Linked DNA regions of Homo sapiens. The protein of the gene in region 1 purifies or fractionates together with the protein of each later gene. This does not show direct contact. Each region holds a gene or a part of one and is shown in the gene's direction. Other genes may lie near its edges.

The links.
Region 2: the proteins of SLC12A1 (region 1) and MIB1 purify together in Homo sapiens (affinity purification with mass spectrometry; one large-scale study listed by BioGRID and IntAct). This does not show direct contact.

Annotation. Positions count from the first base shown.
Region 1 is NC_000015.10:48,204,701-48,209,214, forward strand, and holds the start of SLC12A1 (solute carrier family 12 member 1), read left to right. Parts: upstream 1-1,601; 5' UTR 1,602-1,630; intron 1,631-2,833; 5' UTR 2,834-3,019; coding exon 3,020-3,439; intron 3,440-4,514. UniProt on the Homo sapiens protein: Renal sodium, potassium and chloride ion cotransporter that mediates the transepithelial NaCl reabsorption in the thick ascending limb and plays an essential role in the urinary concentration and volume regulation. Electrically silent transporter system.
Region 2 is NC_000018.10:21,743,585-21,747,409, forward strand, and holds part of MIB1 (E3 ubiquitin-protein ligase MIB1), read left to right. Parts: intron 1-3,825. UniProt on the Homo sapiens protein: E3 ubiquitin-protein ligase that mediates ubiquitination of Delta receptors, which act as ligands of Notch proteins.

The DNA of each region.
Region 1 (4,514 bases):
TGACATTTACTTAACGAAGAGGATCTAAAGGGTTTTACTTAGGTGTCTCTAGACACTTCTATAATCCTGTATCAGTTCACTAACTTACCTTTACACTTATTTTTTATAGACAAAATATCTATCCCAATCTCTAATGATTCACCTCACAATCTTGTATGTGCTAAGTAAAAATCCCCAGCTAATTGTAAATAGCGCTAAAATAGTGAAAGCAAGCACTAGGTACAAATTGTTGCTGTTCTAAACCCCATACACAAACTAACTCATTTATTCCTCAAAATAACTCTACAACAAGGTAGGTACAATTATAATCCACAACTGCATTTGCAGATGAGAAAATTAAGGCACAGAAAGATTGAGTAACTTGACTGAGTTCACACAGACAGCAAGTGGCAGGGCCACGACATAAGTTGGGCCTTCTGACTTGAGTCTTGCTCCTAGCCACTATATTACACCACAACCGAGCTACTCAGACAACTGGAAATCACTTAAATCGTTTCTTATAAGAAACAAAGAGGACTCATTCAATCATCCTGATTGATAATCAGTGACAGACTTGAGGGAGGAATTGTTTGCAGTGTTAATAATCACCTACTTGCAGATCTGAAAAAGAAAAACCTTTTCCTCAACAAAACTCAAAAACTGAGTTGGACAAAAAAATGTTTTTCTAGTTGGAGACAGAAAGGTCATTTAGTAGTGCCACTGAGATGCTTACCCACAGTTTGGTTCCTGCTTAAAACAGTTTTCCCTGCTGGGCGCGGTGGCTCACACCTGTAATCTTGACACTTTGGGAGGCTGTGCCGGGCAGATTACCTGAGGTCTGGAGTTCAAGATCAGCCTGGTCAACCTGGTGAAACCCCATCTCTACTAAAATTACAAAAAAATTTAGCCAGGCGTGGTGGTGGGCGCCTGTAATCCCAGCTACTCAGGTGGCCGAGGCAGGAGAATCACTTGAACCTGGGAGACAGAAGTTGCAGTGAGCTGAGATTGCACCAGTGCACTGCAACCTGGGCAACAGAGCGAGACTCCATCTCAAAAAAAAAAAATTTTCCCATATTTCCCAAAATAGAAATATTTTCAATAAATCATTGATTCCACTCTTAATCTGCTTACTTCCCATGCAAAAGAGTCAAGGTAATGTCTACTACAAGCAAGATAAAATCATTTCAGACACTACTTTCTAGTTACAGAGTATAGAAATTGTCTCTGGAGAACTATATTTTGATACACATGCTAAACAATAGGAGGTCACTAGGACTCATCTGTAAGACGGTGGAACTCAATTTATCTATTCCCAAATGACTAATGGCAATGCTCATATTTTTTGGACAATTGCTGTTAAGGGATCCAATTCTCCTTATGAATTAAAGAAACTCTATGTTACTTCCTGTCTAAAAGGATTAATGGTTTACTACTAGTTACCAGTTGATGTGGTACTTAAGTTTCCTCAGGGCTAATGACCTGGTGGGGCTTACAGTACTATTCCAGGCCAATCATTGCACAGTCATCTCTTTCAAGAAAGTTTCTAACCAATAAGCAGAAGCCTAACTTTCTGGCTGAAAGCTAAGTGTCCCATATATTCCTGGGTGACGCTGAAGCAGGTTACATTTCCTCAGAAGAAGGCTCCTTGGTGGTAAGTTGAACATTTCTGGGCAGGGTAAAAATCATACTTAATATTATGTCATAAAGTAGATTCTGAGGAGTAGGTGAGGGTGTCAAGGACTATGAAGAGAAGTGTTTTGTAAAAACTAAAACGATAATAGCTTCATTTATAATTTCCCCAGGAAAGGTTACTTGAGAAATGAAGTTGAGGGTTTTTTTAATTCAAATACACAGCTTTAATAACTGCATGAGAGAGACAAGTTTTTATTTATATTTATCTCATTTTTCTAGAACTTCCCTTGAAAAGCCAAATTTTAAGGTATCAATAAGGAAATATAATTCTAAAGCAAGTGTTTTAAGACAGGCCAGTACTATGAAATTGCGAAAATTATTGTGAAGTCTATTCACCTCACAGTCAAATATAAACCTCTCAATTATTGAAGACATTTCATTAAAATGAGTCAGTAGAGCATGATTATTTTACCTAAACATAGCAGAGGACTTTTTTAAGGTATATGACTTATTTCTTATAGATATATGACTTATTTCTATATTCATATTTTTTTAAGGTTTCATGTTAGTATTTGCAAAACAAACAAATGTATGAGCAAATGAAACATTTGGATCTTGTAAAAGATCTAAGAATTCACAGAGACATCATCTTGATGGGATGTATTTTTTAAATGCATATTCTAAAACATAATTTTTTACTTGTTGCATAGGTAACAAAATTTGGAATTTATAAGTTGAACATGTACAGATTTTTATAAACTAGCAAGAATATATTTTTTAGAAGTTTTGTTTTTCATTTTATATGTTGTATAGTATATATTCCTAACAATCAAAATACTTTGCAGTTTCAGCATTTAGTACTGTCAGTGAACTGTGTCTTAGGCTGAGAATATTCTCATCAGCTCTTACTGTATTCAATAAGTAAAGTTACATCTTTTCTAAAGTCACAGTGAACTCCAGTGCACTGAATTCAAGCAAATACTACAAACACAGGTAACATTTTAATGACTGCATTGGAAGTTCTGTTTGCTGGAACAGTTTTCCAGTTATTTATTATCAGATTTAATTACTCACATGACTAAGGTTCCTGGACAGATAAATTTTAGTGAAATGAGTTTAAAATTGTATGTCTTGTAAAATAAAACTGTTCCCTTATATCCCACCCTTACCTAAATATATTTGTATTACTTGGAACAAGTTTAATTTTCTTTTTCAATGACAGCTTTGAAGAACATCCTGAAGATTATATCGGAGACAATATATCAAGAATCTATTTATTGAATCATCTAGAACAAAAGCCAGGAGCTCCCTAATGGAAGCACATTAGTGTTTATTTTGATGAAGAAATATATAGATTTTTTAAAACAACCACAAAGTAGATAGCTCAGTAAAAAATCAATTTTGGAAGATGTCACTGAACAACTCTTCCAATGTATTTCTGGATTCAGTGCCCAGTAATACCAATCGCTTTCAAGTTAGTGTCATAAATGAGAACCATGAGAGCAGTGCAGCTGCAGATGACAATACTGACCCACCACATTATGAAGAAACCTCTTTTGGGGATGAAGCTCAGAAAAGACTCAGAATCAGCTTTAGGCCTGGGAATCAGGAGTGCTATGACAATTTCCTCCAAAGTGGAGAAACTGCTAAAACAGATGCCAGTTTTCACGCTTATGATTCTCACACAAACACATACTATCTACAAACTTTTGGCCACAACACCATGGATGCCGTTCCCAAGATAGAGTACTATCGTAACACCGGCAGCATCAGTGGGCCCAAGGTCAACCGACCCAGCCTGCTTGAGATTCACGAGCAACTCGCAAAGGTAAGCTTGAAGGACACAAGCAAGTCTCCTCCCTTATTCATAACTTCAGATAATTTCCTTCTCTTTCATTACACTATGAATGAATGTGAAACAGTCAAATGGAGAGGTCTATTCCAAACACTATCCATCTTACTTACAAAACTGTCCCTAGTTCCCAGAAAAGTGTTTCACAGATGCTTTTTCTTTGGATTTTTTTTTTTCTTGAGACAAAGTCTTGCTCTGTCACCCAGCCTGAAGTGTGGTGGACACTGCAGCTTTGAACTCCTGGGCTCAAACAATCCTCCCACCTCAACCTCCTGAGTAGCTGGGACTGCAGGCATGCACCACCACACCTGACTAACTTTTTTATTTTTTGTAGAGACAGGGTCTTGCTATGTTGCTCAAGCTGGTCTCGAACTCCTGACTTAAAGGGATCCTCCCACCTTGGCCTCCCAAAGAGATGGGATTGCAGGCATGAGCCACTGTGCCCAGCTCCACAAATGTTTTCTGACTTAGGATAGAGAACTAAAGAATTAACTCTAAATGTTAGGCAATATGTTGTACCTTGTATATGATTATAGTCCACTCAATTCACACTTGGTTAAACACGTCAAACTGAATACCAAGCTGGTTTCACGTCAGTATTAATGTCTCTATGTCAATCGTATAAAAAGCAAAACACTTGTGCTTGCTGTAGTTAATACTGTGGGTGACAGCCTTTAGTGTGTAGGGGTATTTTTTATATTCTTTAAAGAAAGGGCAGAGATTTATAAGATTCAGCATTTTATCCCTTCCTCTTTAAAACTTTGCCTGAGGCTCCTGAATGTGCTTAAGCATATAAAAATAACTAAATTAAAGTACAGAAGCAGCAGAAGTGACTAAACTTTTCATTATTTAAGAAATACAGCCAGGGTTCCCAAGTCTGTTAGAAGTGAGGCAGCACTTTTCCCAATCTTTTTTGAGACGAAGTATCGCTCTTGTTGCCCGGGCTGGAGTGCAATGGTGCGATCTCGGCTCACCGCAACCTCCACCTCCTGGGTTCAAGCGATTCTTCTGCCTCAGCCCCCTGAGTAGCTGGGATTACAGGCATGTGCCA
Region 2 (3,825 bases), on another chromosome or scaffold:
AAACTGCCAGCAACAGTGTTTGAGGCCTATGCCTAATTTCTGCCTACTCTTTTTTTTTTTGAGACAGGGTTTTGTTTTGTTACCTGCAGCCTTGAAGTTTTGTTGTCGTGCTAGCTCAAGCTAAAGTCTGACCACAACCCTTATTTGGAGGAATTCTTGGTATCAGTAATTGTAGCTTTATGAGGAAATTTAAGTATCTAGGGTAAAGTGTAACAGATTCTTTACTACGGTGATTTTTGAAGGGACATTAATGTTATCTATATGTTTGTAGTATGGGGTGTATCTATCATATTAATAGTTTTATTATCTTAATATAAACGTAGATGTTTTTCAGAAGTAACTGTTTTAGAATCTTAGTTTAATAAGATAATTTTATACATTAATTTGTTATATGTAGTGGTTTATCTTGTTCATTTGGTCTTTTAACAAACATTTTAAGAGCAGGATAGCCAACCTTCATATGAAATACTTGTTGAAATATATTTTAATTTCAACCTTTTAAATTCTTCAGGGTTTTTTTTTTTTTTTTTTTTTTAGAACTGAGCAAAATTGTAAGCTCCTGGCTCTTGTTTTGCCCCAGGACTATAATACTACTTTCAGTGTTTTCCTTTTTCTTCAAAATATTTAATAATCAGTGTTCACTGACATTTTATTACATTCTATAAGATTACTCAATATTTATTAAGTACTTGATATTTATTTGCATAATATTAACATTTTAAAAATTAACTTTTGTTTTTGAAACAATTGTAGTCTTCCAGAAAAATTACAAAACTAGTAAGAGTTGCCTTTTGCCCTTTACCCACCTTCTTCAGCTGTTAATATCTTAGCAAGTACAATGATCAAAACCAGAAAATTAACACTAATACGGTAATACTGTATTAACTAATCTATACACCTTATTCAAATTTTATTTATTCAAATTATATGCAGTGGTTATTATTAGTGTCCTACTAGTATTCTTTTTCTCATCCAAGATCACACGTTGCATTTAGTGGTCTCTTCCAATCTGGGTGAGTTCCTCAGTCTTTAGTCAGTGTCAAAGTAATGAAAAACAATCTTGTTATCTCTCAAATTGGGTGTTTCTGCTGCTTTTTCATGATTAAATTCAGATTATGTATTTTCGGCAAGAATATCATAGAAATGATGTTTTGCCCTTGTTAGTGCATCGTACCAGGAGGTACATGGTGTTCGTATGTCTCATTAATTATAGCGTTAACTCGGCTAGGTCACCAGGAATTTTACCAACTGTTGCTTTTGTACCAGCAATGTGATGCCAGTATGAAAAAGATAACTTGTATCTTACATATTATTGTGAAAATACTTTTGACTTCATGAAGTCCCTCAAAGGGTCTTGAGGATTTCCCTAGAGGTTGAAGAATAACACTTTAAAAGTCACTGCCCTGGAGAGAATCTCTATTTGAGCACATAGAAGCTTGTATAAGAATGTTCACAGCAGTTACTATGGTTTTGAGATAAATAAAATTTAAAAAAGAATGTTCACAGCAGTGTTGCATGTAAAAACAGAAAATTGGAAAAAACTTAAATGTACCTTAGCAGGAGACTGGATAAGTTGTATGAATTTGTATAGTGCAGTACTGTATAGAAGAGAATGTTAAGCAAATAAAGTAAGTTGCAAAAGAAAACCTACGGTCTGTTAAAGTGCGGAACAAAACTATTTTAGGGTAGGGTTTTGCAGCCTTGGCACTATTGACATTTTGAATTGGATAGGATAATTTTTTGTTATAGGAATGTCCTGTGCATTGTAGGCAGGCATCCCTGGCCTCTACCCATTAGCAGCAGTAGCACCCCACCTCCTTGTGGCAACCCACAATATCTCCAGACATTGCCAGATGTCCCCTAGTGGGGGCAAAATTGCTCCCAATTGAGACTCATTGGTTTAGGGATATGTACATGCGTGGTAAAAGTATGCCACGTAAAGGTAAGATAAACACTAAATTTAAGAGAGTGGGACATCCTTATGGTGAAGGGAGTGGAGAGCACGATTGGTGGAAGTACACCAGGGGCATTTAAGTATTTTGGTAATGTTCTGTGATTAAACCTACCCCATGGTGAGTGCATAGGTGTTAAACACACACACACACACACACACACACACACACACAAAATTTTATTTTTTTTGAGACAGTCTCCCTCTGTGGTCCAGGCTGGAATGCAGTGGTGTGACCTCGGCTCACTGCAACCTCCGTCCCCCAGGTTCAAGCAATTCTCCTGTCTCATCCTCCTGAGTAGCTGGAATTACAGGCATGCACCACCACACCTGACTAACTTTTGTATTTTTGGTAGAGACGGGGTTTCACCATGTTGGCCAGGCTGGTCTCGAACACCTGACCTCAAGTGATCCATAGCCTCAGCCTCCCAAAGTGCTGGGATTACAAGTGTGAGCCACCACACCCAGCCCTTTCTATATTTTTGTGTGTGTCATATTTTTGTACTTAATTTAAAAAAAAGCCTTATATTTATCAGAGGGAGAACTGAGGTTGCCTTTGATTATTCATCATTTGTTCCCTAGTTCCACCTATATTATATGAATAGAAAATTTATTGCAGTATGATTGGGAATTAAGAAATGGGTAACCTTCAGCATAAGATTCCTTGCAACTTTTCTGGGAGTTAAGGATTCTGGAGTGGTTGGATCATTGTGAATCTTTCTGATACGATTTTTCTCACTACATTTTGAAGATTTTGTCTGGGAGTTGTATGCGGGTCTCTAATATTTTGGCATATCAGCTTTATTTTTTCTTTCAGGACACACATGATATGTTTGAATTTATGGTCTAGGATAGTTAAACTTTGCAGAGAGGAGCATTTAGTATCTGTTTGAGTGATATAACGTCTGTCTTGTTTCGAGATTCATTTGGCTCATTTGTAGTGAGCAAGAAGATTTTGGGACTATATGGGATGTTATTTAATTAGTTTGGACTAATTTTGTAAAGTCTGTAGTCAAGTAGGTATAGTTGACTTTTTATCATCTAGGCACTGATTTTATAGGAGTTGGAGAAAAATGTGTTTTTATTTATGCTTGCTTTGTGTTCACTTGACTACAGTGTTGTATTGTTACCAGAGATAATGGAGAAAATGAATGTAGATTTCCTGTTAAGGTTCTGTCATTCTTCGTGTCGATAATACAGAGTTAGAGGTATAGAAAATCAGCTTTATTCAAAACCAGCTTCTGGTCATAGTTCATTCAAACTGTTTTGGGGGTAGTTCTTTGTCCTTGTCTTTGACCGCTAGCAAAGAATGCCTCTCCAGTCATACGTGGAAAAACTTCTCAGATGTTTTGTATTCAGTTGAAGGTTTAAAAGGGCTGACCCTGGATTAAAAAAATGAAATGAATTAATAATCCTCAGCTTTTCTTTATCAGAATAGAGTCCCCTATTCTGATCTGTTTCTAGAACCACAGTAGAAAGGGGTATTTGTCAGGACACAAAGCCGTAGGAAAAAACAGGATTTGAGGGAACAATGTTTGGGGAGCAGGATGCCACACCTGGAAAGGATGAAATATCACAAAATGTTTTTTATTAATGACATCTGCAAGGAAAACTTTATTTCCTCATAGATCCTACCTATTTTAAAGGCTTCTGTAAAATGTCTTTCTTATTTTATTTCCTCCACTAAAACAATGTTGTAAATTATGAAAGTCTATCTAGTTCTTAATAGTCCCTGTAGATTGCAGCTTGGTTGAGCTGAGGACTTCAAGAAATCAACTAGTAGACCCCTGTGTCAGTACTTCTCAAACTTAAAGCACACAGATCACCTGGGGACCTTTTAAAATGCAGATTCTGGTTCAGTAAGTTTGGGATTC